4 linked regions of the Homo sapiens genome follow. The protein of the gene in region 1 interacts with the protein of each later gene in a biochemical or structural test. Each region holds a gene or a part of one and is shown in the gene's direction. Other genes may lie near its edges.

Region 1 (7,906 bases):
CTCATTGTCCTGCCAGCCCCTGCCTCTCCCTGGGACTCCTGGGCTCCCCAGGCCTTTGATGCTTCCCTGGATAGAGAGAAAGGCCCCTGCAGCCAGGGAGGGTGATCCCCACAGCCAGGCAGGCAGCAAGAGGGGTCCTGGCGCTGCAGGACAGCAGGGAGGGTGGCTCGGTGCCCCGGTCTTCACCGGGCTGCCTGTGTTTGGCTCTAGGACATCCCTACGGGCGCAGACAGCTGTGTGACGAGTCTGTCCTGTGATTCCCACCGCTCACTCATCGTGGCTGGCCTCGGTGACGGCTCCATCCGCGTCTACGACAGAAGGATGGCACTCAGCGAATGGTACCTTGACCCTGTCCTCTCCCTCCCCGAGTGCTGGCAGGGTACCTTCCAGGTGGTAGGGCCGTGTCACTGCCATTTGGTTGGGTCCAGGTTTCTCAGTGAGATGCAAAGCTTCCCCAGGAGCCTGCAGTGGCGTATTTAGGCCAGTCCTGGGCTCCCCAAAGCCGCCAGGCCCGTCCCACTGAGGCCCATCCCACAAAGGTCTGCCCCACAGAGGTCCACCCCACAGCCTATGGAGGAGCACAGGGGACAGGCCATGTGGGATGAGCCAGTGGACTGGAGGCAGAGGCTGTCGGGGTGAGGCAGGGCCGCAGCCAGGCACCTGCCACCTCTGAGCTCACCTGAACAGAATACTGCCACTGCCTGCCACCTCCTGGGTCATGCAGCAAGTGTCTGGGGAGGGATGTCTGAGGGCACACACGTGGGCACAGCAGCCCTGGGCACTGCCTCCACTGAGCACCCCTGTGGGCAGGTGCTGTCCGCGTCTGGCAGAGGACAGGGTACACGCATGGGCACAGCAGCCCTGGGCACTGCCTCCACTGAGCACCCCTGTGGGCAGGTGCTGTCCATGTCTGGCAGGGGACAGGGCACACGCGTGGGCACAGCAGCCCCGGGCACTGCCTCTGCTGAGCACCCCCGTGGGCAGGTGCTGTCCGGGCCTAGCAGGGGACAGTCCGTCTTGGCCCACACGGCTCATGCAGCAGAAGTAAATTTCACCCAGCACAGAGCGAGGATTCCCAGAAGGTCCTTGTGCCTCCAGCTTCATCAGCTTTAGGTCTGGGATTCTCATTCCTGACCCTCCAGTCTGCACAGATCGGGGAGACACAATGAGGAGTTTTGAGGGAAGCAAAGCAAAGGGTGGGCAGGGCCTGGGAGCGCTGCGATGGCCGCCTGGCCCCCGTCTCTGGGCAGCTTCCATGTGGCTCAGACAGTCCTCCAGCGGCCTGACGGTGACCTAGGGCCCAGCCCTGAGCCAGCCTGGGGAGGACACAGGGGGTCTCTGCTGGAGCAGGTCACCTGGAGGGGGCTCTGACCCTGCGTGAGCACTAGCCCCTCGTGGGGAGCGGACGGGCGAGGGCCTGCGGACCCGCTGGCACAGGCAGACCTGGGCAGCTCCCGGTGAGAGCCCCGAAGGGTGGGGACGTCCTTCAGGGAAGCCCCACGCTGAGCGTGCCCCCTCCCCTACAGCCGCGTCATGACGTACCGGGAGCACACAGCCTGGGTGGTGAAGGCCTCCCTGCAGAAGCGTCCCGACGGCCACATCGTGAGTGTGAGGTGAGGAGCGCCGATATTTAGCAGCCGTTCTGCTGTAAAAACATTATTTTCCCCTCCATTTAAAATACGTCCTTGGTATTTAAACAGCTGGAAGGGGATGGCATTTCGGGCAGTAATTAACTCCTGCCCTGGAACTGGCCAGAAAGATCAGGCGCAGCCCGTAGGGGCCCAGGGGCCACAGCTGCTCCCCTGCTGGGGGACACCTGACCTGCAGGCGCTTTGGGAACTTTCCTGGGCTGCCAACTGCGGAGGGTTCCGGGGGGAGTTGGGCAGCTGCTCTCCCTCCACGGGCAGGGGTGGCAGGGTGGCAGGGGCGGCGCGTCTGCCAGGCACGTGGCAGTTGTCTGCACATAAATTCAGTTCTGCCTCTTGGTAAATACAGCACCAAGAGCAGGGAATATTTATTTGCCTATTAAAGGAAGAGCAAGATGTAATTTATGAATGCAAAGCCAGCATTTCTTCAAAGAGATGCTCTTTTCCCCCTTGTTTGTGATATAAAAACCAAACATAACTCTTGGGATGGACGCCTGCTGGGGGTGGAAGGCAGGAGCCACGGGGCCTCAAAAGGGCCAGGCCATCCCTCTCTCGGGCCACAGCCTGCCATCCAGGCTCTGTCTCCCGGGACTGCAGGCCCCGGTTGCATGAAATCTAATCTCTAGCTGGAAATGAAACCAGGAGCTCACAGCCTCCTCCCGCATCTGTGCTCATGGTCATTTCTCTAGGCCAGAAAGCTCCGCGCCTTTTCTGGCTCTGAGAGAGCTTGTGGGGGACAGCCTTGGCCCTGAGACCAGTATGGGTGCATGTCTGGGCCCCACCTGGGCAGCCCTCACTGGGGACGCTGAGCATCCAGGCAGCTTTTTCCTTGAGCAGTGTGTGTGCAAACAGGTGTGCGACCCCACACACCTGGTTCCACCGTCCCCCTGGCCAGGCCCCTCATGGGGCCTCCGGGAGGAGGTGTCACTGTGACCCTCTCTTGGCAGCGTCAATGGAGATGTGCGCATCTTTGATCCCCGGATGCCTGAGTCGGTAAATGTGCTTCAGATCGTGAAGGGGCTGACGGCCCTGGACATCCACCCCCAGGCGGACCTGATCGCATGGTAGGCGCCACCCACCTCCCTGGCCTGCACCGCTCACCCGCCTCGGGCCTCTGTGCAAACGGGAGGCTCTTGTGTTCCTGCCCCCAGGAGCTGAAGGAGGGCAGGGGAGGATTTCACTGCTGTGGGGACATAAAAACAAAAGATGTCTGCCCACCACATCCTCCCAGGATAAACTCTCAGGGCCCTGCCAGGCCCGAGTCCTCAGTGAGAGTGACCAGAGGGTCACACCTGCCCCGAGCCAGCCTGTCCCCGTGGTCTAGCCGGCCTGTCCCCGCGGTCTCGGCATCTGCGCCCATCTTCCATCCTCAAAGAAGAGGGCAGTGATGCCGGGACCCTTTCTCTCCCCACAGTGGCTCCGTCAATCAGTTCACCGCCATCTACAACAGCAGCGGAGAGCTCATCAACAACATCAAGTACTACGACGGCTTCATGGGCCAGCGGGTCGGCGCCATCAGCTGCCTGGCCTTCCACCCGCACTGGGTCAGTGTGGCGGTGGGTGGGGGTCGGGGGTCGGGGGCTGGGGTAGAGGGATGGGAGGCAAGGGGACAAGGCAGCAGGGGTCCTGCCTGGCTACCCCACACCACAGTGGGGCCCATTGGCTGCCTGAGGGAGGGACTTGCCTGGGTCCCAGGATCTCTAGGGCCCCTGCCCCACCCTGCACTCGCCCCGGAAGCAGAGCCCCAGTCCCGTCACTCCGGGAGGAATTGACACACAGTGGCTGGGGCAAAGCTCCTGCCCTCAGACCCTGCACTAAAGCCATCCCTGGGGACCTCCAGGAGAGTCGCTCGGGGTGTCCATCCCTGTGCGGCCCTCACCCCGTCCCCTGTGCGGCCCTCACCCCGTCCCCTCTGCGGCCCTCACCCCGTCCCCTCTGCGGCCCTCACCCCGTCCCCTGTGCGGCCCTCACCCCGTCCCCTGTGCGGCCCTCACCCCGTCCCCTCTGCGGCCCTCACCCCGTCCCCTCTGCGGCCCTCACCCCGTCCCCTGTGCGGCCCTCACCCCGTCCCCTGTGCGGCCCTCACCCCGTCCCCTCTGCGGCCCTCACCCCGTCCCCTCTGCGTCCCTCACCCCGTCCCCTCTGCGTCCCTCACCCCGTCCCCTGTGCGGCCCTCACCCCGTCCCCTGTGCGGCCCTCACCCCGTCCCCTCTGCGGCCCTCACCCCGTCCCCTCTGCGGCCCTCACCCCGTCCCCTCTGCGGCCCTCACCCCGTCCCCTCTGCGGCCCTCACCCCGTCCGCTGTGCGGCCGAGTCCTCACCCTGTCCCCTGTGCGGCCGGGCCCCACCTGCACGGCTCTCTGGCCTTGGTTGCAGCCTCCCCACGTGGCTTCAGGCCGTTGTTTTTAGATTAGGATTCTGCCCACCTGCCGCCTTGTGTTGTGAGGCTCCAGGCATGTAGCTCTGCTGACACGTGTGACATTGGATCCCAGAGCTGCCCCGTGGGGCAGTCCTGAAAAAACCACGCAGGGCCCGGGGCAGCGCCACGCCCCTCACGGAGTGCACCATGCATGGGCCCTGCAGAGGACTGGTGGGACCGGCCCGGCATTTCCGGGCCTGAGGTGGGCGTGGGGGTTCCTGAGACCCCGGCAGGAGCTGCCTAAGGATGCGGGTTGGCCTGCGCCCCCCCGCCCCCCGCAGTGTCTGCCCGCACCTGAACCCCTGCTCACCCCTTCTCTCTCCTTGCAGCCTCACCTGGCCGTGGGAAGCAACGACTACTACATCTCCGTGTACTCGGTGGAGAAGCGTGTCAGATAGCGGCGTGACCCGGGCCCACCAGGCCACGGCCGCCTGCTGTACATAGTGAAGCTGTCACTCGCCGGGGCACGGGGCGTCGGCTGCTGCGGCCCCGCAGTGTGAACGTTGGCTGCTGCCTTAGCTGCTGATGACGGCAGGAGGGCCCTGCTACTCGCTTTTGTCTGTCTTCGCTGTCGTGTCTGGAATGTCAGGGAAGGGGAGGGCTCGGGTTGACGGTGGCTTCCCACTGAGCACCAGCATCCAGGTGCACCCCCGCGGCCACGGCGCCTCTGTCCCTCTCCTGTTCTGTGTTTCTCTGAGACGCTGAAAGGGGAAACACCTCACTTTATTTCCATGTAATCAGAGCATTAGCTGCAGAAAAACCCCCCGACAGAGCCCTGGCGGAGAGGCAGGCGCTGGGGCTCCTACGGGTCCCTGGGGCAGCTGTCCCCATCAGGCCAAGAGCGAGCGAGAGGCGCTGCCCCAGCCAGGCCCACCACCTCTCACAGTCAGTGCACGCAAGCAGGGACATTTCCTAGCCAGCTGGGGGACACTGGAAATTCGGGAAACCAAGAGAGAGGAAGAAGGAGACGCCCCTCCAACTGGCGGGTGTGAAGGAAGCCGCCCAGGGGTCCGGGCTGTCCTTGGCCGCTGGCAGCATCACTGAGCAGGAAGCGCACAGCCCACCCTCCCCGCACCTCCAGGTCTCTGGACTCCAGTTTTGGCCCCTCTCACACAGAGCTGTCAGCAGGGGCCGCTGTGGCGGTGCACAGGGGAGGCAGGTCCTTGGCGAGGTAGCCCCTGCCTTAATCCACGGGGCTCCTTTCCCTCCGAAGGGCTGCTCTTCCCCACAGGCGCGGGGACAGCAGCCCGACCTGTGGTCTCCATGCCTGTGCCCTCACACAGGTGTAGCACACGCATGTGCAGATGGCACCACGGCCGGCACCTGGGGGCACACACATGCAGGCGGCGTGGTCTCCCTGCTCTGTCCCCACACGTTCCTCACATACAGGCAAGAGGCACTGCCGGGTCCCGGACGGCTCCGGGTGACACCAGCCCCGTCTCCAGCCTTGAGCCGCCCATGCTGATGCGACCTCGGCTGACAGCTGGGCCTGTGGTGCAGACAGGAGCTGTGTGGACAGTCCCGCCCAGGAGGGGCCGCAGGGCGTGTATGAGCAGTTTTGCAAACAGAACACAACCACAATGATGGTATTTTGAAAAGTGTTCTTTCCGTGTTCGTCGGGAATCAGGATTATTGAGAGGTGAAGGAGCCAGGTGGCTTCATTCTGGCGGTGAGAGGCCCACGACCACGGGAGTGAGAGCTGGTGTGGCGAGGCCCGGCTCTCCTGCGGTGTGGCTGGTGGCCTGCCGTGGCCAAGAGCATCTTCTGGGTGGATGGAACCCTGCCTGGTCACATTTGGCCAGAGACACACCTGGCCCTCAGGGGGCTGAGCTGGAGACTGAGCTGGGGCTGGCCGGGACGTGACAAGGCAGGACAGAGGCGGCCCCTCCGCTGCTCCTTTTTGGAATGCGAGCTCCCACCAGAAGAAGGTTCCGGCACGAATCCCATCCCCACGTCTGGGCCGAGAAAGCAGCCCGGGTCCGGAAGGTGTAGAGAGTCCCGGCCTCACTCAGCTCACAGGGCGTGCCAGGCGGCAACACCAGAATCTTCCAGAAGCCCAGCTCCACCCGCACACGCAGCTTCCCATCCAGTCCTTCAACTCAATTCTTACCCAACACGCGTTTCTGTTTGTTTTGAGACAAAATCACCACCTGTCAAAAGGCAGGTGGCTCCAGAGGGGTCAAGACCCCCCCCCGCCCCCGCTCCACCCTGGAGCCCACCCCCATGGGCACCGCGTGCCGCCTGCACGTGGGCTGTCTTCACAGGTCTGATGTGAAAATTCAATCACGACGTTAACCGGCTCGAGAGAGCGCCGGCCTAGAGGCTCATTATCTATTTATTTTACCAAACGCGAATTGAGACGGACTTTGACAAAACACGAAATGGTAATGTGAAGCTAAGAGCAGAGAGTGACCAACAGTAAACAACACGCGCAGACTCCGCGGCTGGCGGCTGTGTCTTTAAGGAAACTGCCCACCCCACCTCAGGGGGGCATCGGTCAGAGCAGAGCTCTGGGGGGTGGGGGGACGTTGCCCGGGTCCCCCCTGCTGTCCCCAGGGCCACCAGCAGCTCTGCGTCCCGGGTGCTCTCCAGGCAGGCACTGTGGCCACAGGGGGCCTGGCACGTCGAGTGTGCAAAGGTCTCGGTCCTTTTCTCCCAGGCAGTGCCCCCAGCCCTGTGGCGCAGACCCCACATCAGGGAGCGTACTGTGTGGCAAGAGCCATCTTGTGACGTAGGCCAGACACGTGTCTTTCTCTTTAAAATGACGGTTATCCTCTCACGGTTAGAGGCCCCATTCAAGTCTGCATTGAAATCTGGGCCACGTCAGAGTTCCTGGGGGAGAAGCCGCTTCCCCGCTCCTCCCCACTTCTGGAGGCCCCCACTCTCCTTGGCTCGTGGCCCCTTCCTCCAGTTCAGGGCCTCTGACCCACGCCCACCGTCACCACTTCTCATGCAGGCCAGAAGTGTTTCCAGGCCTAGGGGCCGTACCCACCTCGGGCTGTGTGGGTCCTTAGCCCTAATCACATCTGCACATCCCTCTGGCCAACTCTTTTTGGGTTTGCTTTTTGTTTTGAGATGGAATCGCACGCTGTCACCCAGGCTGGAGTGCAGTGGCACGATCTTGGCTCACCTCAACCTCCACCTCCTGGGTTCAAGCGATTCTCCTGTCTCAGCCTCTCAAGTAACTGGGATTACAGGTCTGTACCACCACACCCAGCTAATTTTTATATTTTTGGTGGAGACGGGGTTTCGCCATGTTGGCCAGGCTGGTTTCGAACTTTTGACCTCAGGTGATCCACCTGCCTCAGCCTCCCAGCGTGAGCCACCACGCCTGTCCCCGTCTGGCCAATTCTTGAAAGGCTCCCGTTTCCAGATCACACTCTGCTCTGCAGGTCATGGCCTGTCCCTTGAGGTTTTTCCCAAGCAGCAAGGTCCGTGCAGGGATTGGGAGCCAGGGGGAATGTTGTGGAAGCCACAGCAGAGGCAACGGGCCTGGGCATGGTCCTGCGGGGCGAGTGGGAGGCAAGGGTCCGTGGGGATGGTCATGTCAGCCACACTGCACCACCTCAGGGGCCTGACTTCTGGAGAGCTTGGGAACAGGCTCTTGTCCCCCCGGCCCCTCTCACCTGCCGACCAGAAATTGGGTCTCGGGCACTGAGTAGCTTGCCCAAAGCCCTGCCTGTTGGGTGGTGGCAGGGACTGGGGTCCTAACCCCACCCCAAGGCCATGTGCGGAGACCTTTACTCCACCACTTGGGCTGGGGGGTGTGTTGGGGCTGGGGGAGCCACGCACTCGGGACCTACAGGTGCTGCTTGTGCAAGCCCCGCCCCGCCCTAGAGCA
Region 2 (6,080 bases), about 53 Mb from region 1:
TACTTTGTGATGGTAGATAATAACAGTAGTTGTCCTAAATCATACACTCCCTCTGCTGCTATGTTACCCACCTCTAAATTCAATTATCCCTCTTTGGACGGGATGTACTATAAATTATATATATGCTATGTCAAGCAGTTAATGTGTCTTTTGAAAGATCCTATGTGGACAGTCATTTTATCTGTAGTGTTGATGTGCTGGTCTCTAATTTGATTTCAGTCCAAAAGAATATCCGCTAAGGATGCCTTAGCCCACCCCTACCTAGATGAAGGGCGACTACGATATCACACATGTATGTGTAAATGTTGCTTTTCCACCTCCACTGGAAGAGTTTATACCAGTGACTTTGAGCCTGTCACCAATCCCAAATTTGATGACACTTTCGAGAAGAACCTCAGTTCTGTCCGACAGGTTAAAGGTGAGTATCTGTTTTGGCCTTTGGCCAGGCAATATGCCTAGTAACATTTTCCATTAGGTGGCCATGAAGAGCTGAGATCTGGATGGTAACCAAAGCTCCCCTCTATGTTTATTTTACAACCTTGCGTATAGCTGTGTGTCCGGGGCATAACAAAGCATATTTAATATTATATCCAGGGGAAGGTCGGGGAGAGGAATGAATATTTTGTTCTTATTTTCAAAGTTTATTTAGTGAGTATGACTCAAAATATGTTTAATATGTATTCACTCAGTGTCATTTCATTGATTCAAACGTATTGAACTTTATATAACATACAAAGTTCCATAAAGGATAAACATTCACTGAGGGAATTATTCCTTGGACGATGACAAGAGAAGGGAATTTCTGATAGTGTACTCATAAAATTTTGTGGCAGGATCTCCTATTGGAATACAGTGGGAGTAATGACATCCAAAATTCTGAGTGATTTTAGTGTCTACTGTAGGACATTTTACAAGAGAGAGAGTAGTCCCCAAAGTAACCACCTGAAACTATACACCTAGATACCAACTGAGGTCTTTAAGTGATCTTCAAAAAGGCAATAATTGCCAGCAACTTAGAAGAGTTCACCCATAATGCCAAACCTGTGGAGTCTCTCTCAAATTTATAGGCCATTTTACTCTTCCCACTGATGGGGTTGCAGTCTGTGTAATGCCACCAGTAGGTTTCTTATATTTAGCAACAGCTGTCATTTTAGTTTTAGGAAGTTCAGCTGAATTCTGCTTGATAGATGATGTGTGTGTTTGATTTAACTAAACCAGTAGGCAGTGCTTTTCAGATGCTGGCTAGAGTTCGCTGAGAATTCACTGCTCCCGGGCTTGCAAATTGTCATGGATTGTATGATGTTTGTTTTCTCCACAGAAATTATTCATCAGTTCATTTTGGAACAGCAGAAAGGAAACAGAGTGCCTCTCTGCATCAACCCTCAGTCTGCTGCTTTTAAGAGCTTTATTAGGTAACTATATGTATGTAATTCAACATTCTTGTTAGAATTAAAAGGATGCCAGTGTTACTTCATTATTCAGCATATTTGTTTTTATTTAGATAACATAGATAAAAGGTGCAACAGAAAGTTTCTGTTATGAGGTTTGGCTTTAGTCAAAAGTGTATTAAAACTGTAAGCATCTGGGCTGGGCGCGGTAGCTCATGCCTGTAATCCCAGCACTTTGGGAAGCCAAGGCAGACAGATCACCTGAGGTCTGGAGTTCAAGACCAGCCTGACTAACATGGAGAAACCTTGTTTCTTCTAAAAATACAAAATTAGCCAGGCATGGTGGTGCATGCCTGTAACCCCAGCTACTTGGGAGGCTGAGGCAGGAGAATCACTTGAACCCGGGAGGCAGAGGTTGCGGTGAGCCGAGATCGCACCATTGCACTCCAGCCTAGGCAACAAGAGCGAAACTCCATCTCAAAAAAAAAAACAAAAAACTGTAAGCATCACATTTTACACTGGTGCCAGTTCACTGCGGTTGCTTTGGCAATTTTTTCCCCGGATGACCATTGTGCTGCCTCATCACATATATGGCAGTCCTGCTGCAGCATTAGTATGGTGGCCACCTGTCCTGGAGTTAGACGTGGTCATCTCAGTTCCCACTACCATTCTCACTCCCTAGTAATAACTGCAAGCAAGAAAATAATTTTTTTGTGTGTAGGTGGACTGCTGGTGTAGCCTATTTAGAGGAGAAGTCAAAAGGCATATGGTAGAGCTATGAACCTACATTGGAAGTTACCAGGCTTCATTCTCCTTGTCTGTCTGTCCTTTCCTTCTCTTGATTTCTTTTTCCTTAACTCCTTATATATTGATCAGGGTCTAATCGGGAGAAATAAACCACTTCCCTAGAATACAAACGGGGAAAATTCAGTAATAAGAACTGTTAACTAGGAAAGATGATCAACTGCTAAAAGGCATAAAAGAGGATTCTGAAGGCTGCTGAAGTAGCAAATGCAGAAAGCAGCCACTCCCTGTAGACTGAGGGAGAGTAAACAAGAAAGGAATTAAGAATTTAGAAGAGGTTCCTCATGTAAGGACCTCTTTGGAGAGGGTATGGCTGCCACAGGAACTGGAACACACAGCACGAGGGTGGTGCAGAAGAGGAAGTGTGCCAGAAGGTGTGGCCAGAACTGGTCCATCAAAGACTGCCTGCCAGGAGAGTTCGGGTGGACCAAAGCTGAGCCTTCCACATGACCAAAAACAGGCACAACAAACCAAGGAAGGGAGACTGCTTCCTGATGCTACAGCCTTGCAAATGCCCTTCCAGCACCCTCTGTTGACAAAAGCTAACATTAAGCTAGGTGGCAAAGGGGAACCATGAACAGGGTCTGGCTCCAGTATCACAAAGCAGGACAAAGGGTGGATTCGGATATGAGTGGTCACACAGTCTCTATCTTCCCCGCTGCCTTTCTCCTCTCCTTTTTCTCTCTTCCTGCTGCCCTTTCCCTTTAATCATATTAAAGTTGGTTGGATTTGTTGGACCACAGTCAAGATTTTATGCTTAAAATTTGCAAAATCAGGTGACTTTCATTTCTTCCATGTATTTTTCTATTGGAAGAAGGAATTAAGTTGCACTTTTACTTATCTGTGGTTTTAAATTACTTTGTTTTACTATTTTCCCCTAAGAGTCAGTGACCCAGTCAGTTAGGCAGTTTAGCAGCTTAGGTGCAAATGATCCTGGGCCTTGGGGAAACAAGGGGTTACACTTTTCCCTCTCAAGTTTATAATCTAATTAGCAATCTTAGACATAGGAAAAAGCCAATAACAGATCTAGATCACCAATGCTAAATGATTACCTATACTTCTCCATTAATACTTGATAAAAGAATGCTTATAAGGCCCATTCAAAATAGGCCACTGTATTTTGAGAGGCTACTTTTAAATGGATGATTCTACATCCCTTAAGGTTATTTTCCTGATTGATTATTGAAATTATTACTTGTAATACCTACATTTACTTTACACTTTGAAGTAGGCACTGTGGAAAATACTTCACATCTATTATCATTTATTCATCCCAGTATCCTATGAGGTAAACAGCATTATTTCTTTCCAAATGAGAAGAGATTAAGGCACTTGCTCAGGGCCATACAACTAGTAAATGACATGTGGTTTTCAAGCCTACATATTAGCCACTATACCAGATTGCCTCTCCATAGATAACAGGTCCATAAACAAGCAACTTAGAATAAATTCAACTTCAAAGAAACAAATAAAAATCCAGAAGTGGAATTAATTTTTTCAGAGGAAGAGAGGAAAACAGGAAGTAGTGAATTACCCTTTTGTCCATTGTGACATTACAACTAATTTCTCCATCTCTGTTTTCTTCCAGTTCCACTGTTGCTCAGCCATCTGAGATGCCCCCATCTCCTCTGGTGTGGGAGTGATGGTGGAAGATAATGTACTACTGAAGATGTAATGTAGCTTTCCACTGGAGTCTGGGATTTGCAATTCTGGAGGTTAATCATGCTTGTACTGTAATTTTACTAATGAAGTTTTAAATTAACAACCACTACTTGTATGATATGAATAATATTTAGAAATGTTACTAGACTTTTAATCTTGTAAAGTGGTTGTGCTTTTAGAAGAAAAATATTTTACCCAGAGTTGCACATGTTTTATGAATTTAGTGCAGCTGTTATGGCTCACCTCAGAACAAAAGAGAATTGAACCAAATTTGGGAGTTTGGGGTTTTATGTTTTGTTTTTCTTTTCTAAAATGAAGTGAGATTGTTCACACACACACACACACACACACACACACACAAACACAAAGGACAGTCATACATTTTGATATTTGAGCCATTCCTAAAGATTTGGGGTTTTCTAAAACTAAAGAATCTAGGAACCTTGCCTGCGACCAATCATGGAGCCACGTGAGCTGATCGTGGCTGCACCTGGGGGGAGGGTAGGGAGGAGGGGCATGCCACCTAATGATCAAGCCCTATAATTAGCTTCTCATTAGAGCCGTGATGGTGATGTGTGCTGTCTAAAATCCAATGTTGTGGGTAGAGAGAATGAGTTTGTGACTAGGAGAGACTAAACTTTTGTTTTCCTTACCCAGTATAAATATATATATATATATTTAATCTATTTTTATTAGAAGTTTTTCTGCTCTTTCTTACATAAAAGAACCCCAAGCATGCATCTTTCATGTGTGTAAATAATTCATTTCTGGGCTAATTTCAAAAGAATCCCAATATTGCTGTATAGAAAGAGAACTAGCTTGCACATTTTAGGTCTGTGAAATTTTGTGAGACTTTTCCTGCACTGGACAGTAAAAAAATAATAAAAGACAAAAACAAATTTAAAAAAAAATTTAAGCCACAAAAAAAGGCACATAGGGAATTATGTCAAATGTGTTTGTGTCCTTAGGCAAAGCTGTGGGAGTCTTGAAATGTCACAGTAGTAAATAACTTATTACTTTTTGACAAGTTCTTTTTTTCTGTTGGAACACTGAATTCTTCTGTGCATATGTACATATGAATACAAATCGAAGGCCTCTACCTCCTGGAGTTATACAACTTGGCTTGTTTACCTCCACATGCTGATGATGACTATTTTTTTTTTTTGAGTTCAGTGTGGAGACTTGAAACTTGAATGTCCCTTCCAACTTTTATATTAAAAATAAAAAGACAAGAAAATTGAAGATCATTTTTCACCTGTACAAGGAATACTAATGGATCGTCTTAAAATTGGTCTAGGAAAAAACCTTGGTGTGTGTTATGGACAATTAACTGTTAAAGTTATTGTAAGTTATCTGTATTTAGCAGAGTATTTTCAACTTGAGTGATCTGAGCTGAATTTGAAGACTATTAATAAGTTATGTTTGGAAGTTTTAACTTCAATGAAGTAATTATTTGCTGTGAAAGAAACAAACATTGAATTACTAAACAAAGATGGTGCAATATCTTTGTTTTTTTTTTATGAGGCTCCTGAGAATCAACCCAACTGAAGCATTTCAATTCACTTGAATGAGAAACGTGTTTAGTATCAAAAGAGCCCAAGAAGACACTGGTGTGAAAGGTACAATCTCAGAGGTTGGTCAATTACCGTGGCACACTTTCTGGTCACTTTGTACAATGTAGATTTGAAGTACAGTGGTGAAAACATTAAATGTGACATTTGAAAAAGATGTGTCATCTGTTTTATTTCAGTTTCTTTCCTTTGTTTTCTCTTCAGTACAGCTCGTATCCTGACTTTGCAAAGTTTTGAGACACTTCCTATTTATATTTCCACTTTGATCTTTGAGGAAATTGGTTGTTTTTAAAAATCTTCTCAAAAACTTTAGATTGACAAAAACATATTGAAAATTTAGTTAAATCAATATCAAAGATGTGATTTAAATATACACAATAGAGAAGTCTTTTTAGACCTTGGAGTCTCTAATCCAGTGGTTTTCAAACTTTTTTTTCTTTGAAGCAATATCTTGGAGTCCAATATATTAAATACATAAAAGTAGATTGCTCTGTATGAAGCAGACTGGTAAAGGGACTTGACACCTCCCTCCTCTTCACTTCTGCCTCCTGCCTCTAGCAGCCCAAAGGTACTTTCAGCTAAGGAAGAAGTCCCAGCCCAGTGGTGGTGTAATCAAGGCCTGAAACCAGACTGCCTGACTTCAAAATACTTTCCC
Region 3 (8,875 bases), on another chromosome or scaffold:
TGATCATAAGCATCTAAATGTGTCCATATCAGAAATCTTTTCATTCATTTTAAAGGCCATTCTTGACTGATACTGAATGCTCTTTGCATTTGTTGAGTTGACAACCTCAAGTTTGGTTCTTATGTATAATTTTGGTTTATTTTACTATTAAGTTCACTAGGATATTTCAAGGAATTGTATGAGGAAGGCCATTAGGTGTGTACCAGTACAATGGCAGGATAAAGAATGAGCAGTGGAATATATATTCATAAATATTTCACAATATACATACAAACCCGTGTATGCATGTGCTATAAAATAGCAAACTTGCTGTGCCTGTCTCTGGTTTAACCCATGTCAAACTTTTTTGATCTCATCAATGCCTTGGATTGTGGAAAATAAAAGCAACCCCGTGGTGGGAAGGAAGTACTTCCTCCTCTCACTTATGCCCTCTTGAATGTATCTGATCACTTCTATACCTTCATCCCCTTCTGTATTTACTGGGTTCTAGGCTCTGTAATTACATTCACTTTGTCCATCTATGCCAGCTACTTCTCCTACAGATCCGCCATTATGCCATAGTATAATACTATCCATTTGGAACTTGACCCAGTATTAAGTACTGTTGTCTTTAGAATGATGAACAGAGAGGATTGTCCTATTACTAAAATATTGTTCCTTTCCATGATAATGGCAATTAGTGTATTTTCACATATAACCACATCACAATCACCCTCCCTTTGCTCTAGGGCAGTGACAGTCTTTGGAAAACAACCTTGACTAATAGATTTAGTCCTACTAGAGTTCCTGCCTTCATTCATTCATTCAACTAATACAACTCCCTCTGTCACAAGGACAACCAGCTCTGAGCCCTCATTGTCCCCTGCACTACTGGGTCATTGTTCTCTCTCAGTTCTCAGTGCTGTCTCATGGGTTTCCTCCCTCCCATCCTCCTCACAGCTCTGGTTTGCTCTCTAGTTGACCCTGGTGCTTGGCTCAGGTAGATGTGTTAACATTAAGCTGTTTAATGTTCCCTACAGACGAAAGTCCTTTGTTCAATCAGCAAGAGTATATTATGAGACCACAGTGCTCCTGCCACTGTGCCAGGCATTCATAAGAAATATAAATGTGGCCTCTGCCCTTAAAGTGCTTCTGTCTAATTCATAAAAAATGGTTAGCCAGGTGCGGTGGCTTACACCTGTAATCCCAGCACTTTGGGAGGCTGAGGTGGGTGGATCATGAGGTCAGGGGATCGAGACCACCCTGGCTAATATGGTGAAACCCCGCCTCTACTAAAAATACAAAAAATTAGCAGGGTGTGGTGGCAGGCGCCTGTAGTCCTAGCTACTCAGGAGGCTGAGGCAGGAGAATGGCGTGAACCCAGGAGGCAGAGCTGGCAGTGAGCTGAGATTGTGCCACTGCACTCTAGCCTGGGCAACAGAGCAAGACTCCGTCTCAAAAAAAAAAAAAATGGTTAACATACCTGAAGTTGATAGAGCTCAACTGGAGTTAGAGGGGAGGGCCTATTATGTCCATGAGGGCAAGAGTCATGTCCATTGCATTGTTTCTGAATCCTTAGAACCTAATCTGTTGCCTGGCATGGAGCAGATGCTCAGTGAAAATGTGTTGGTAGAATGAATGAATGAATGAATGAAGGCTACCATGTTAGAATGGCATAATGGAAGAAGCGAAACTCAAAACAGGTGTTGGAGGATGGCAAAAGTTGGGATTGATGTAGACAAAAAGGAGTAAAGGGCACATTATTAATGGAAATAAGTACAGTTACATATCACTTGATGACTGGATATGTTCTGAGAAATGTGTTGTTAGACAATTTTGTTGTTGTGCAAACATCATAGAGTACACTTACTTAGACACACCTAGATGGTATAGCCTATTACATAGCTGGACTATATGGTATAGCCTGTTGTTCCTAGACTGTAAGCCTCTACAGCATGTTACTGTACTGAATACTATAGGCAATTGTAACACAATGGTAAGTATTTGTGTATCTAAACATAGAAAAGGTACAGTAAAAATATAGTATAAAAAATTTTTTTAAAAATGGTACACCTGTATAGGGCACTTACTGTGAATGGAGCTTGCAGGAAATGGCTCTGGGTGAATCAGTGAGTGAGTATGAAGGTCTAGGACACTTTATAAACACTGTACACCAAGGATACACTAAATTTTTAAAATTTCTTTCTTCAATAATTAATCTTAGCTTGCTGAAACTTTTTATTTCATAAACTTATACTTTTTTTAACTTTTTGACTCTTTTATAATAACATTTGGCTTAACACATATGGCTATACAAAAATATTTTCTTTATATCCCTATTCTATAAGCTTTTACTGTTCTTAAATTATTATTATTACTTTTTTAACTTTTTTGCTAAAAACTAAGACACAAATACACACATTAGCCTAGGCCTACACAGGGTTAGGATCATGAGTATCATTGCCTTCCACCTCCACATCTTGTCCCACTGGAAGGTTTTGAGGTGCAATAATACGCAGGGAGCTGTCATCTCCCATGATAACAAAGCCTTCTAGGTACCTCCTGAAGGACCTGCCTCAGGCTGTTTTACAGTTAACTTTTTTTTTTTTTTTAGTAAGTAGAAGGAGTACAATTCTAAAATAATGATTAAAAGTATAGTATAGTGAATACTAGATAAGGATTTTTCAGCTTCATTATAATAAGACCACCATCATATATGCAGTCCATCATTAATTGAAACTTCGTTATGCAGTGCATGACTGTACAGTGAACTTACAAAGAATGAGGAGTTGCACCTGATTGGAGCACACTTTACATGTATTGATAAGTGTTGGAAAATAAGTTTCTCTCTTTAGGTAGAGTGAAAGGAGTTCAGCCCTGTTTAATATAAAAAGGAGTCATGGATGGTTTTTGTGGGTGAATGAGAGAGTGACAAGGGAAAGATAGTGTTTAAGTGGTCAGGATTATAGGAGAGAAGCTGGAGCAAGGAAGGTCTGCAAGAAAGTGGCAATGCAGGCATAGGCAGTGAGAAAGTAGAAAGAGACAGATATGAGATTTACCCCCCCAACCCCCCCGCGCCGCTCCAAAACGAAGTCTTGCTTTGTTGCCTGGGCTGGAGTGCAGTGGTGTGATCTCAGCTCACTGCAACCTCCACCTCGCAGGTTCAAGCAATTCTCCCACCTCAGCCTCCCGAGTAGCTGGAATTACAGGCATGTGCCACCACGCCCGGCTAATTTTTAAAATATTTTTAGTAGAGATGGTGTTTCACCATATTGGCCAGGCTGGTCTCGAACTCCTGACCTTCAAGTGATCCGCCCGCCTCGGCCTCCCAAAGTGTTGGGATTACAGGCGTGAGCCACCGCGCCTAGCTGATATGAGATGTTTTGATAGAAAATACGACACAATCTCATAACTGGGTAAGGATGGATCCAACATAACTGCAAGGTACCTAGAAATCTTATCCAAAGGTTAGGAAGGGGAGATGATTTGGGAGAGGACAAAAGTGGTTTTGGATAAGTTAACATAGGGATGATAGTGACATCCAGTTGCTGTCCAAATAGAGATTTATGTCTTCAGAAGGGTAGAGAAGGCACATTAGAAATGTAGACTTGAGCGTTGTCAACATACAGGTTGTCAAGGAATCGTGTAGATCTTCAGTGATGGCTATTAATTTCTCCCATAATGTGCTAGTTAGAATCCAGCTTTCACAACATTGATACAGATTGAGTATCTCTTACTTGAAATGCTTGGGTCCAGCAGTGTTTCTGAATTTGGATTTTTTCAGATTTTGGAATATTTACATTATATTTTACCAGTTGAACATCCCTAACCCAAAAATCCGAAATCCAAAATGCTGCAGTAAGCAATTTCTTTATGTGTCAGGTTGGTGCTCAAAAAGTTTCAGGTTTTGGAGCATCTCAGATTTTGAATTTTCAGAGTAGGGAATACTCAGCCTGTAATGATAGCAATGATAATGTGTAACAAATAATAGCATCAGCAGCAGCTGAGTTGTATTTCCAGTATTGGTGTCCCATTGAGATTTGGAGCCACATTAAATGATGTCTAGGTTGGTGATACTCTCAGGAAGTGGGAGGTTTGGGGTTTTCAGAGACATATATTGCAATTCACTGGGCGTTTGAGTGAGCTTGGAAGATTGCCATGTTGACTATCTCCTGCCTGTACCTCCAGAGCTCTGCTATAGCTGAGACAGGCTTCCTACGTAATGAGTTATCTTTGCCTTTCATGTGAGCTGCAAATGTACCATTGTACTTCCTCACTAGGCAAAGTAATAAGTACTTAACATTTAAACATATGTTGCAACATACACCACAATCTCAGATATGAGTAGGTCATATTCATAAATTATTTCTTAAACAAAAATTATAATTGTGTTTCTGCTGTGGTATAAACTCTCAATTCCCATCAGACAGTTATCTGGGCCGGGCATGGTGGCTCACACTTATAATCCCAATACTTTGGGAGGCTGAGGCAGGAGGATAGCTTGAAGCCAAGAGTTCAAGACAAGCCTGGGCAACAGAGCAAGACCCTATCTTTACAAAAACAAAAAAAAAAAAAACAAAAAAACTAGCCAGGCACCATGGTTTGTGCCAGTAGTCCCAGCTACTTGGAAGGCTGAGACAGGAGGATCACTTGAGCCCAGACTGCAGCGAACTATGATTGTGCCACTGCACTCCAACCTAGGCAATAGAATGAGATGCCGTCAGTGATATTTTTCCCTTGAGTGACAGTTTATTTTTGCAAAGTTATCTCAGCCTATAATCCAGTTTGATATTTTAAAAGAAATTTTCTCTCTAGTTAAAAAAAATTATGAAGAACACCTTTGAATGATTTGCAAAGGGAAATGAATGTAGTAATCCTATGAGAAGTTCGAAGGACTCTACATTATCTGTGGGATGAATGCATAAAGCCTTTGGTGCCATGCCAGACTACTTTTTAAATTATAACTATTTTGCAGAGAGCAATACAATTGCAAAGAATAATACGAAGCAAACTTGCATTTGGATTTCTTCTCCTCTACTGTCTCTATAGGCTTCTTTCATCGAGACTTAAAGCCTGAGAACCTCCTCTGCATGGGACCAGAACTTGTGAAAATTGCAGACTTTGGTTTGGCCCGAGAAATACGATCAAAACCTCCATATACAGATTATGTATCTACCAGATGGTGAATACCATTTTTCTCAAAATTATTTAATTGCACTTCTTTAAAAAGATATCATTATGCTAAGGATAATATTAAAGTCACAAATGTTAACTTTTCACTAAGAGAAACAGTGCAGTCTGAAACATATATTTATAGATATGTTGGTAATGTACAAGGTTAAAAATCTTGTGTTCTAAATCATGTTAAAAGAAAACCTATTATGCTTTTCTATAATGTAAATAAAATTTTATATATAGGCCTTCCTGAGGACAGCTTAACAAAAGAATTATGTAAAATATTCTGCAAAGACCTGTCTGAGAACCATCTAATTGCTATTGTGAAAACTTTGAGACACTGGGAATTTGATTTAAGCAGTTTGCCATGACCAAGTAGTCTACACACAAGTTGTAGGTTTTTTCCTCCCTCTTCCTTTCTCTCTTAGTTTTTCCCTTCCACTTTCTCTTTTCTCTCTTTTTTCCTAATTCTTACTTTCTCTGTGTTTCTCAAAGATGCCATAGAGAAGTCTCCTGTAGAGAAATGCTCAGTAGAAAATATTGTGAACTAGAGAAGCACTACTTGTCAACAGCAGCCCACGGCAGTTGCCAAGTTCTCACAATTCCATTACACCACAGTGAACTAGAGAGAAAATAGGAACATATACACCCCCTCACTGAGAACTGATTGTTATTTAATTTAATGTCTGAGTGGTGGAAGCAATAGCTAGCAGTTAACCTTTGTTCCTCCAGGTACAGGGCTCCAGAAGTACTCCTGAGGTCTACCAACTACAGCTCCCCCATTGACGTCTGGGCGGTGGGCTGCATCATGGCAGAAGTTTACACCCTCAGGCCACTCTTCCCTGGAGCCAGTGAAATTGACACAATATTCAAAATTTGCCAAGTGCTGGGGACACCAAAAAAGGTAATGATACAAAACAAAGGCCAGTGGGCCAAAGCCAACAGCTTCCCATGCTTCCTCCGCTCAGCCCTGTTCAGCACTGGCATGATTGAGCACCTGCCCATTCTAGGCTCTTTCTCTTGACCTCAGTCATTCTCCACTGCCCACGTTCTCAGATACGGTCGGCTTCTCTTCCTCCTCCTGTTCTTAAGTATGACATCTGTCATGGCTCCTTCTGCCTTCCTCTCTGTATCATCTCACCTCCCTTGCAGAACTTCTCAGTTCTCATTGCTACAACTCCTACGCCTGTTCAGAAGTCTCCTGAATGTAATCCTTAGCCGCTGCCTCCCTCCATTATTACTACACTCACATGTTTACAACGCTCTATGGGATTTTCTCCTGACTCCCTCACCATCACCTCAAACTCATCATTGCCTTTTGTTTAACACCCTACTAGCTTCCTTCTTTCATTCTCCATTTTCATTTGTGGTCTGATCATAATCCCAGAGCCCCCACCTTGAGGCTGAATTTCAGCTTTACCTTCTGTCTTTCTCTTGCTCCCCTTTCCCTTCATCTAAGCGGTTGGTGGGTAAATCCTGTTGAATATTGCCACATGGCTCTTGTTCCTTCAAGTCCACTGCTGCCATTACAGACTGGACCACAGTCACCCCCCTGTGTCTAATGTCATCTTCCCCATCTTTCTGCCTTGAAGTATTTTCACTCTGGCTTCTTGTTCAGTCTGTGGCCAGATTCAGCTTCCTAAAGAACAGCTCTGGTACTGACTTCCCCTCATAAAAGTATTGGTTGACTCCCCATTGCCCAGCCTCATAACTCCTATTCCTATCGCTCACTTCATACCTATACACCTAACAGCTGCATGCCCTGAAATTTCCCTGCTTCTGTGCTCTGCACATAACACCCTCTGCCTGAGTGATATCTGTCACATGGCCGTCAGTAATCCCCCTCCTCACTGTTTCTCTAATCTCCTCCCCATCTTCAGCTGTGTCCTATGTTATTAATATTATTATTTGCGTACATAGTTGTTTCCTAGACCATAAGCTCACTCAGGACAAGGATTTGCTGTATGTTTATTTTCCCAGGTCCCAGCACCATTGCTGGTGCAAACTAGATCCTCAAAAAAATTTTTTAATCATTTGAATGAATTATTAATGCCACCTCTTCAAGAAAGTTTCCTGAGTCCAATGCTGGAATCTTTCTCCTCTGCATATCTGTACCTGCACATCTCTTGCAGCTTTTGTCAGTTTTTACTCTGCATTATACCATTTTTAAATAAATGCTCTTTTCTCTTTTAAGAACAGTAATACTCTTAAGCGCAGGATTTATATTGGATCATTTTTGGATCTCCAACAACACTAAGCATATAGTAGGCATTCCAGAACTGTCAAGTGAATGAACGATAAAAGCTATATGTATTGCCACTTGGCTTTAAAAAGGAGTGGAGGAACAATTACCTTAGGCTGTATGTTATAAAATAGTAGAGTGTTAGAACTAGAAGGAACCTTAAAGACCATTTCTTTAGCATTTTCCATCATTCCCTCCAGCATTTAGTGTCCCATAGAAATGATGCATGAAAAAGTGGAAAGCTTGAGACTGGGTGAAACACCTTTCTTTACTGCTGGTTTTCTCCACATGTATACTTTCAATCACCAAGTTGAAGATACTGTAGGTAGAGTTTCACAAATTTATTTGTCCAGGAACAAAATGTTTTGTTTTATTTTGTTTTCCCCAAAAGAATATCTCATTGGCAGTTTTCAGAACCTCTGTCTCATGGAACACAGTTGGGGAAATATTAATTTGTTTCAATCCCAAAATCTCAAGAGAATCTCTTATGTAAAGATAATTAAGTTGGCAAATCCAGTGTCTTTTCCACTATTCCCCCAGATTTCATGGTCTTGGTGGTCTCTCTATTAATCTAAATCTATGTCTCATTCCATACAGTGCCACAGTAGTGAATGTGGGTGGTTAATGAATGTGGGTGGGTAATGACATGGTTGCCTTTCCATTTGGGGCACACATGCCAGAATACAAACTTATATCACAGCAATTGGCTGAGCAAGATTTTCTATCTTTTCCTTCTTTCAGACTGACTGGCCTGAAGGCTATCAACTTTCAAGTGCAATGAACTTCCGTTGGCCACAGTGTGTACCCAATAACTTAAAGACCTTGATTCCCAATGCTAGCAGTGAAGCAGTCCAGCTCCTGAGAGACATGCTTCAGTGGGATCCCAAGAAACGACCAACAGCTAGTCAGGTTTTCTTCCATTTTCTTGTTATAACGTTCATATCTAACTCTGAATAATTTCTATGAATTGCACAGGAAATATTTAGTATTTAGTATTATGGGTGAGAAATAGTACAGAATACCACTAATGGTGTACTATATAAGGTATGAGAACTTAAAATAGTTTGAAACTTACTGGGTATAAAGTAGTTACAATGTAAACAATATAGTTGCTTTGAAAATTGGCATGTAATTCACATGATATATCACCATTTATATGGAAATGGAAATAAACATATATTTATCTGTCTTTGGAGAATGTTTTCAAATCTATTCTCTATGAGTTACAATTATATAGTAGTTTGTTTATAAGCCGGTACTGGTTGTTGAAAGGCAACTTCATATTATGTAAAAGTCCAACTGACTCATAACCTGAAGAGATTGACAGATGAGATAGACCTAGGATAGTAACTGCACTTAGTATTTCATAGCACTTTACAGTGTGCAAATGCTTGAATATATTTTATATGATTTTTAATCCAATAAAGACTCCATGAGACAGGCATTATTGTTTTCAATTCTGTGAGTGAGAAAACTCAA
Region 4 (8,768 bases), on another chromosome or scaffold:
GCCAGGCGCGGTGGCTCACTCCTGTACTCCCAGCACTTTGGGAGGCTGAGGCGGGCGGATCACTTGAGGCCAGGAGTTCGAGACCAGACTGGCCAACATGGTAAAACCCTGTCTCTACTAAAAATACAAAACATTAGCCAGGCATGGTGGTGGGCGCCTGTAATCCCAGCTACTAGGGAGGCTGAGGCAGGAGAATCGCTTGAACCCGGGAGGCAGAGGTTGCAGTGAGCCGAGATCGCACCTCTGCACTCCAGCCTGGGCAACAGAGCAAGACTCCGTCTCAAAAACAAACAAAAAATCAAGATAGTGACATTAGAGCATTAAACCAATCATGGAACCCTTCTAAGTACAGGGCTCTGTACAACTGCATGCATGAGTCATATGCCTGTGAAGCTGGCCCTGAGTACAGGGCTCAGCAAACTATGGCCTACTGGCCAAATCCAGGCCGCCCCTGTTTTTGTGCACCTATAAGCTAAGAACAATTTTGACATTTCTTTTCTTTTCTTTTTGAGACAGGGTCTTGCTCTGTCACCAGAGCTGGAGTGTAGTGGCATGATCATAGCTCACTGTAACTTCAAACTCGACTTGGGCTTAAGCCATCCTCCCACCTCAGCCTCCCAAGTAGCTGGGACAACAGGCATGTGCCACCACACCTGGCTAATTTTAAATTATTTTTGTAGAAACAAGGTCTTACTTGTTACTATGTTGCCCAGGCTGGTCTCCAGCTCTTGAGGTTCAAGTGATCCTCCCACCTCAGCCTCCCAAAGCGCTGGGATTACAGGCGTGAGCCACCACACTTAGCCGATTTTCACATTTTTAAATGGCTAAAAGAAAAAAAAAAAAAAAGAACATTTCGTGACACGTTAAAATTACTTGAAATTCAAATTTTAGTGTCCATAAATAAAGTTTTATTAGAATACAGTCAGGTCTATTCTTTATGTATTATCTATGGCTGCTTTTGTCCCACAACTGTAGAGTTGAGTGGTTGCAACAGAGACCATCTGTCTGGCCCACAAAGTCTAAAATATTTACTCTCTGGCCCTTGACAGAAAAAGTTTGCAAATCCCTATTCACAGGAAGGTCAAACACAAGTGACAAAGAAAAGCAGCAATAAAATGTTTCAGGGATTCTAAAGAGAAGAGAATACATAAGGTTAGAAGTATCAGAAAAGAAGCTCTTTTTTTTTTTTTTTTTTTTTGAGACGGAGTCTCACTCTGTAGCCCAGGCTGGGGTGCAGTGGTGCGATCTCTGCTCACTGTAACCTCCGCCTCCCGGGTCCCAGTTCAAGCAGTTCTTCTCCCTCAACCTCCCGAGTAGCTGGGATTACAGGCATGTGCCACCATGCCCAGCTAATTTTTGTATTTTTAGTAGAGATGGGGTTTCACCATGTTGGCCAGCCTGGTCTTGAACTCCTGGCCTCAAGTGATCCGCCCGCCTCTGCCTTCCAAAGTGCTGGGATTATAGGCTACCGCGCCTGGCCAAGAAGCTCATTCTTAAGAGAAAGTAGATAAACCTTGAATAATGGGCAAGGTATTTGCAGAATGAGATGGAATGGGAAGGGGCATTCCAGGCAGAGGAAATCATTCACCTATGCACAACAGAGAGATGGGGAAGCAAATTATGTGGGCCAGATGAAAAGTCCACTGTCCATTCTGACTATAAATCAGTTTTGAGTGAAAGGAAAAAGTGAGACACAGGATTTTAATTTTATTTTGGTAGAGTGGGGAGTAATTGAAGGCTCTTTGAGGAAGGGAGTGACTTGCTTGGTATGCTTTAAGATAATCATCTGGCAACAATGTATAGAATGGATCACAGCAGGAACAGACTGGAGGCCACCAGGCTGCAAAGGTCCAGGGGATGAGTTCTGCCAAACTAAATTTGGCAACTAAAAACTAAGTATGGTCTTAGTTGAAATGGAAAAGAGGAAACACAATGAAAGACCTTGTCGAATTACTATCTAATAGATATGCCAATTGATGGATTATTCAAGAAGAGCAGAGAGCTAAGTATCAGGCTTGAAGATTGGGTAATTTAAAAGATGGTGATACAATTCACAAAGGAAGAGGAAAAGAAACTGGTTTGGTTACAAAGACGATGAGTTCAGTTTGCACACATGACCAGTGCAAATTGCCAGTGGAATATCCTGGAGAAGAAGTCAAGGAAATAAATAGGAAAGAGGCTCAAACTGAAAAGTGAGTTCAGTGTTAAGAGATGCAGATTATGGTATTCTCTGCATAGTGATAACAGTTTAATACAAATAACAATGATTTCCAGTCTAATAAGAGAAACTGTGTTTTTAATTAAATAGATTATTTTACACGTTCTCTCAAACTCTAAAAATTCTAGCTTCAATTTTCTAAAACCAATTTCTTTCTGGAAAAAAAAAATCAATTGCCCAAAGGACAAAGAGTTTTTCTAAAAAAAGAAAGAAAGAAAAAGCACAGTGTTCCCAGGTAACACTTCTGTGAGCTCAAAGTTTCAGACTTTCAGTTATCAAATTTTTATGCAATAACTGAAAAGTTAGTAAAGTCAAATTTATTTGTAATTCACTCATTCATTGAGAAGTTACAGTAATTCCAACGGACTGCTCTGAAATTTGCCTTTGAAACTTTTATTTAAAAAGGTTTTCTAAAGAATGGATGTTAAGTGTTCTCATAAAAAAATGCTAACTCAAGGCCAGGCGCGGTGGCTCACGCATGTAATCCCAGCACTTCGGGAGGCCCAGGCGGGCGGATCACCTGAGGTCGGGAGTTCCAGACCAGCCTGACCAACATGGAGAAACCCCGTCTCTACTAAAAATACAAAATTAGCCGGGCGTGGTGGCGCATGCCTGTAATCCCAGCTAGTCGGGAGGCTGAGGCAGGAGAATCGCTTGAACCCGAGGGTGGGAGGTGGGGGCGGAGGTTGCAGTGAGCCGAGATCACGCCATTGCCTTCCAGCCTGGGCAACAAGAGCGAAACTCTGTCTCAAAAAAGAAAAAAAAAATGCTAACTCAGCCGGCGCGGTGAGTCACGCCTGTAATCCCAGCACTTTGGGGGGCCCAGGCGAGCGCATCACCTGAGGTCAGGAATTCGAGACCAGCCTGGCCAACATGGCGAAATCCCCTTTCTACTAAAAATTAGCTGGGCGTGGTGGCACGCGCCCGTCATCCCAGCTACTCGGGAGGCTGAGACAGGAGAATCTCTTGAACCTGAGAAGCAGAAATTCCAGTGAGCCGAGATCATGCCACTGCACTCTAGCCTGGGTGACAGAGCAAGACTCTCAAAAAAAAAGGTAACTCTGTGAGGTAATGTAACAATGTATACATTACTTCAAACGATCATGTTGTATACACAATAAATGCAGACAATAAACAATTTTTAAAAAGATATTTTTCTAAGGAAATAGAAATTATCGAAATAGGTAATCTACTCAATTAACCTAAATTGTAAAACATTATAAAACACAGAGAACTGTTATAATTCATTCTCATCTATTCATTTAACTTAGGTTAGCTTAGTTTTCAATCACTACATATTCTTAAACGGAGTGAAATTAGTCACATTCCATTTATCTTCCAAATTTATCAACGTTTATTAAGATTTATTTCAAGAATAATTTGTACAGGGCCTAATTAAATTATGAACCAAGAAAGTTAGTCTTAAATGACCCCTCAATCCCTTTTCCCTGCACTTTGCTCTCTTAATCTCCTCGCCCATCAAAACTGCTTCAAGAAAAAGTTCTGATAAATTTCTTGTACTAAGGGTAAGTAAGAATGGTAAATTCCCGTGTTAAGTTCCCGCCCTTTTTGGAACGAGGCATTTTGGAACAGAAAGTGTTTTCTGGTGCCCTGAAGTCACACGATAAACCTACTTGCCTATGGGTAATCCTGTGAAGTGAATAAAGCGTCCAGGACATGCATTTAAATACGCAATTTATTTTAGTTATATAAATGGCGTTGGTTTAGGTGCAGGGTACAAACTTATTTAGAAATCATCGATTTGTTAACTGCGTTTGGCATGGGAATTTGGAAAGAGTTCGCCCGGGTTAAGACACCAATGGATAAAACACTTGTCAATCCAGGAGAAAAGGCATCTCAAGAATGGAAAGACTTGCTGGCCCAGGCTCCCTCGGGGAGCTCTAGGTGTAGAAAATGCGCGCTCTCCGTTACTTCTCGGTTACTTTGCCCAGCACAAAGGACGACGCGAATACCAACAGACTGGACGAGTCGGTGACTACAGTTTGCATTAAGAGGCGGCGCCTTTTGGGTTTCGGAGGGTTCCACTGGAACCCACGAGGGTCAGGAACACCGACGCGCGGATTCCGCCCACCAGACAGCCTGGGGAAGCGAGCCTGAAGGCGCGGCGCAGCTAGAGAGAAGAACCTCGGCAGACATGCCGCCCAGAGGCAGCTAAGGGGCCCGTGGGCAGGGCCTGCGCTCCGGCTGCGATGCAGGCCGGCTAGAGGCCGGCGCCGAGGACCCGGCGCGCGGCGGCCCCGCCCCCTCGGCTCCCCTCGCCCCGCCCCCTAGGCCCGCCCCTTCCCGGGCCGCGCACCCGCGCGCCCCGCCCGCGGGCGGAAGCTGGAGCGAGGCTGAACGCCTGACGTCAAGGCGACATCGCCAAACCTCGCCCAGATTCAGGCGTGTAAACCAGCCGGAGCGGCGCGGCAGCGGCAGGACCGCCGTGGCGCCTAGAGTAGCGACCCGGGGGGAGCGCGGGGCGACGCTGGCTGCAGGGACCCGGTGACAGCGTGAGAGGTTCGCAGAGTGAGTGCGTGGCCGCTGAGGGAAGCCGCGGCGGCGGCCGCGCGGGGCCGGGCGCCGGCTGAGGGGAGCGGGTGGGGTGCGGCGAGGCGCGGGCCGGGCGCGGCGGTCAGGGGCCCCGGCGGCGGCAGCCCCTCGGCGCGCGGCAGGTGGCGCGAGGGCCAGGCGCCGGGCCCGCGAGCGCGCTGCCTTGCGGGCCGGCGAGGAGGAGCAGCCGCCGCCGCCGCGGGAGAACAGCGCGCTTTGCGGAAGGGGTCAAATGTCTGAAATATGGCGGAGGAAGTGAGAGCCCGAGGACCCCCCCACCCGCCCGCTCTCTTCAGCCCGCGTCCGCCGCAGCTTCTCCCGCCGCCCTCCTTTCCCCGCCGGCTCCCCCGAAGACTCGCTCCCCGCCCCGAGCCCCCTCGCTTGTCGCCTGGGTTCCCTCCGTGGTATGGGTGGAAGTTAGAACGGAAACCAGAAAGTTGTCCTTTGCGAAGACCTAGCTTCTCCCAGCCCCGAGCTAGGGCGAGGAGCCTTCGGGGGAAACCACTCCCAGGCGCCCCGCGGGCTTGAGCCTGACAGCGAAAAAGTTTGCCTGAAACGGGGCTTGCTTGCTCCATTTGTTGCGGGAAGTGGCAGGAGGAAGGCAGCGGAGAGAGCCCCACTTAGTCTGGCAGCAGCCACCGTGTAGAGAAAAACTGTTAAAGGGGCCTTTCCCTTCGTCAGCAAGAGGAAATCTCTTTCTCTTAGAGGGAGAGAAAATCCAGGAAGTTTGTCCTCTTCTCTTTTTCGCCATCTCGAGGTGTCTAATCCTAAAACTATCAGCGCCATGAATTTTATTTAAAACTACGCCCAGTGAACCGGGCTCTCCGGATTTTTCTTCTGAAAAACACTGATGTCTTTTGGAGAAAAGATCATTTTTGCAAGTTAAAGCAGATGGTTTCCTTCCCCTTCGCTTTCCCCCCTCTCCCACTCTCTTTAATAGTTTAGAAAAACATTTTGGCCCTGTAACTTCTGATTGGTATGAATAGAAGCAGTTCTGTGTTGCAGTAAGGGGAAATCACATTTTTACGGGGTAGAAAGTTGACACTAAATGAAGATTGTGATTTTAGTATTTTAAAATTAATTCCGTCTAATTGGATTTTGGTTTTGCAGGCAGCATCTCATATATGTCGAGTACTTAACAATTTAAAGCTCTGACTTGTAAATTTATTTTTCAGCTCTCTTTTTTCGTAATTAGAATACTGTTTGGACTTGCTCAACAAGACCTTATCTTAACAAAAAGTAACTTATAGAAAAGGGAGACATTCATTTAACTTCAAGCCCATATTATTCTTAAAAGCTGACTCTTGAAATAGTATTTATTGAGTCATAGTGGAGTCATGGGACTTTTTAAGGGCCGGAAGGGACTATTTAGATCATCCAGTCCCACCCTGTCATTTTATGGAGGAGGAAACTGAGGCCTAGATAAGATAACCAGTTAGTGGGTCCACTGACCTTTAGGACAGTAGTCTATCCGTAAGAGACAACATGGAGAAAGAAATACAACGTTTTTATAGTGAATTATCATCTTACAAAGAATATTCTTCCCATATCGCACTTTTAAAAAGTGGGTACCTTAGTCAAATAGGAGAAAAAACCACTTGAGTAGTTTCATCCTCAGGTTTTAGGTGAGGAAACTGATACTCAGATTAAATAACTTTAAGCACACAGAGCCTGAATGATAGTCTTATTTGAGCTCATCTGTGCTTTTAATGTGTACTACGTTAGGTGTTTTCACTTGCATTTCCTTTAGTCTTATTTGAGCTCATCTGTGCTTTTAATGTGTACTACGTTAGGTGTTTTCACTTGCATTTCCTTGTTTGACGTTGACAATAAATCGTGAAGCTGCCTTATCTAAGGAAGTCCTAAAGTAAATCATTGGAACACATGTAGCCAGTTTGTTGTTTTTAATATGCCAGGTATCAAAATATAACTGAAGAACCAATGCTAAACTGACTTAATTTTAAAATGTTGTATGGGGCATGAAAATGATTGCTCTGGCTGGGCGTGGTGGTTTACGCCTGTAATCCCAGCACTTTGGGAGGCCGAGCCGAGGAAGGCGGATCATTTGAGGTGAAGAGTTCGAGAACAGCCTGGGCAACATGGTGAAACCCCGTCTTTACTAAAAATACAAAACATAGCCGGGTGTAGTGGCACGCGCCTGCAATCCCAGCTATTCGGGAGGCTGAGGCACGAGAATATGAACCTGGGAGGTTCACATTGAATGAACCAGCTTGAACCTGGGAGGCGGAGGGTGCAGTGAGCCGAGACTGCACTACTGTACTGCAGCCTGGGTGACAGAGCTAGACCTGTCTTAAAAAAAAAAAAAAAAAAAGGAGATAAGAAAATGATTGCTCTGCTCTCTTTTACATTCTCCCCTCACCCACGACCGCGTGAAAGTCATCTCTCTTACCTTCTATGACACGCATTACTTCCTGCCTCCTGTTACCATTTTATATTATTTATTCCATTGAATTGTGAACTCCAACCACAAGATATATATTGTTTTGTATGCCTTAACGCACTGGCATGGTGCCTTGCAATAGACATTCAACACCAGTTAAATGTAAGTACCATGAGGGTAGGGACTTAATCCATTTCATTCTTCACAGTAATCTTCCTAGCGCGTTGCCTGGGCACAGTGTAGCGCGTTGCCTGGGCACAGTGTAATGGTTAGCGTTTGAATTTAGGGATTAATGGTAATGAACATTCAAAGAGAGGATATTTGAAGAGAACAGTGTAATCCTTTAAAAAGAAACATTTACATATTGGCTTTGGAATCCCTTTTACTTGACAAATTAATTTTCGTTTTATCCTCAATCCTTTTCAGAATTCCAATATTTTCTCTTAGCTGTATAAAGGTAAAGTGACCCCCTCCCATAATAAAGAGCTACCATGTAAGGAGGGTATAGCAAAGAATTAATTATTAAAATAACTAGATCCATTTTTGTAAGGATCCTTTCAATTGTATCTTCCTATCTAATTCAAGATTGGTGGAAGGTCTATGCAAAGATTGATAACATGGTAACTGATTAGACATGTTATTTTAAATGCAGTCCAAGATTTGGATGAAAAGCTCACGTTCAGGTTTTTTTTGCCTTTTGTTGTAGGTACTCGATAAATATTTATTGAGGTAGTGAAACTAATCTGAAATTGGATCTGATACAGAGAATTTGACCGATTTTACAAGGTGTCCATTTACTTTTTCCCCATAAGTATTGTTTAAATAGGCTGTTTTATTATCGACTATCACACAGATCTTACTGATTTGCCTCATTTCCTTAAAGATGTAAAATAACTGTGTTTCTCTGTATGTTTGTGTTGCTAAAGAGGAGGTTGGGTATTGATCTGCAGTTTCTAGATTTGACTGGCACTAGGAGTAATTTAGCATTTATGAATTAGCTATTTACTGCTGTTTTATAGCAGTGATGTCACGTGTTCACTCTATAGAAAAGTTAGGTAAAGATTGGTCTGTCTTAAACTTTCTGAGACATAGGTTGTGACTAAAAATATGCCCTGGGTTTTCTTCCCCCTCCTGTCATTATTGAGGACTCCATGGTCTAAGAGATTAGGCTGAAGTTTTTGTTAGCCTTTTCAAATTGAATTGAATTTTAGAACAAGTTAAGACATTTTGGCTGATGCAGTGATTCATTGTAACATTGGACAAAATTTTTAGTTCAGCCATCTGTAAACAGGAGTACTGTACCATGGCTCTGGAAGCTAGTGTTTTTCTGTGTTCATAGATTATTTTGCAATGGTATTGAAAGGTACTAATTGCCATTTGAGGTCTTAAGTTCTTTGTAAATCTCATAAGCACAGTGGAAGCAGTAGCTACAAAGAATAGATGAATTTATCCATTTGCAGTAAAAACTGATTTGTATGTAATCTGTTGTACTTTGAACCCAGTTGAGCACTGGATTCTAAAACAAGTCTCTTTGGTCGTGGAGAGTTTCTATTTTAAACAAGAAAAGTTATCAGGAACTTTTGTGCTGCCTTAAAA

The links.
Region 2: of the proteins of RPTOR (region 1) and NLK, one has a biochemical effect on the other in vitro, tested with the Homo sapiens proteins (one study listed by BioGRID).
Region 3: of the proteins of RPTOR (region 1) and CILK1, one has a biochemical effect on the other in vitro, tested with the Homo sapiens proteins (one study listed by BioGRID).
Region 4: the proteins of RPTOR (region 1) and RAP1B form a complex in vitro, tested with the Homo sapiens proteins (one study listed by BioGRID).

Annotation. Positions count from the first base shown.
Region 1 is NC_000017.11:80,959,868-80,967,773, forward strand, and holds the end of RPTOR (regulatory-associated protein of mTOR), read left to right. Parts: intron 1-210; coding exon 211-338; intron 339-1,526; coding exon 1,527-1,613; intron 1,614-2,593; coding exon 2,594-2,710; intron 2,711-3,060; coding exon 3,061-3,190; intron 3,191-4,394; coding exon 4,395-4,463; 3' UTR 4,464-6,501; downstream 6,502-7,906. UniProt on the Homo sapiens protein: Component of the mechanistic target of rapamycin complex 1 (mTORC1), an evolutionarily conserved central nutrient sensor that stimulates anabolic reactions and macromolecule biosynthesis to promote cellular biomass generation and growth.
Region 2 is NC_000017.11:28,190,802-28,196,881, forward strand, and holds the end of NLK (serine/threonine-protein kinase NLK), read left to right. Parts: intron 1-219; coding exon 220-418; intron 419-1,318; coding exon 1,319-1,412; intron 1,413-3,780; coding exon 3,781-3,835; 3' UTR 3,836-5,580; downstream 5,581-6,080. UniProt on the Homo sapiens protein: Serine/threonine-protein kinase that regulates a number of transcription factors with key roles in cell fate determination. Positive effector of the non-canonical Wnt signaling pathway, acting downstream of WNT5A, MAP3K7/TAK1 and HIPK2.
Region 3 is NC_000006.12:53,015,513-53,024,387, reverse strand, and holds part of CILK1 (serine/threonine-protein kinase ICK), read left to right. Parts: intron 1-5,028; coding exon 5,029-5,161; intron 5,162-5,886; coding exon 5,887-6,058; intron 6,059-8,137; coding exon 8,138-8,305; intron 8,306-8,875.
Region 4 is NC_000012.12:68,606,306-68,615,073, forward strand, and holds the start of RAP1B (ras-related protein Rap-1b isoform 1 precursor), read left to right. Parts: upstream 1-4,593; 5' UTR 4,594-4,738; exon of another isoform or gene 4,739-4,747; intron 4,748-8,768. UniProt on the Homo sapiens protein: GTP-binding protein that possesses intrinsic GTPase activity. Contributes to the polarizing activity of KRIT1 and CDH5 in the establishment and maintenance of correct endothelial cell polarity and vascular lumen.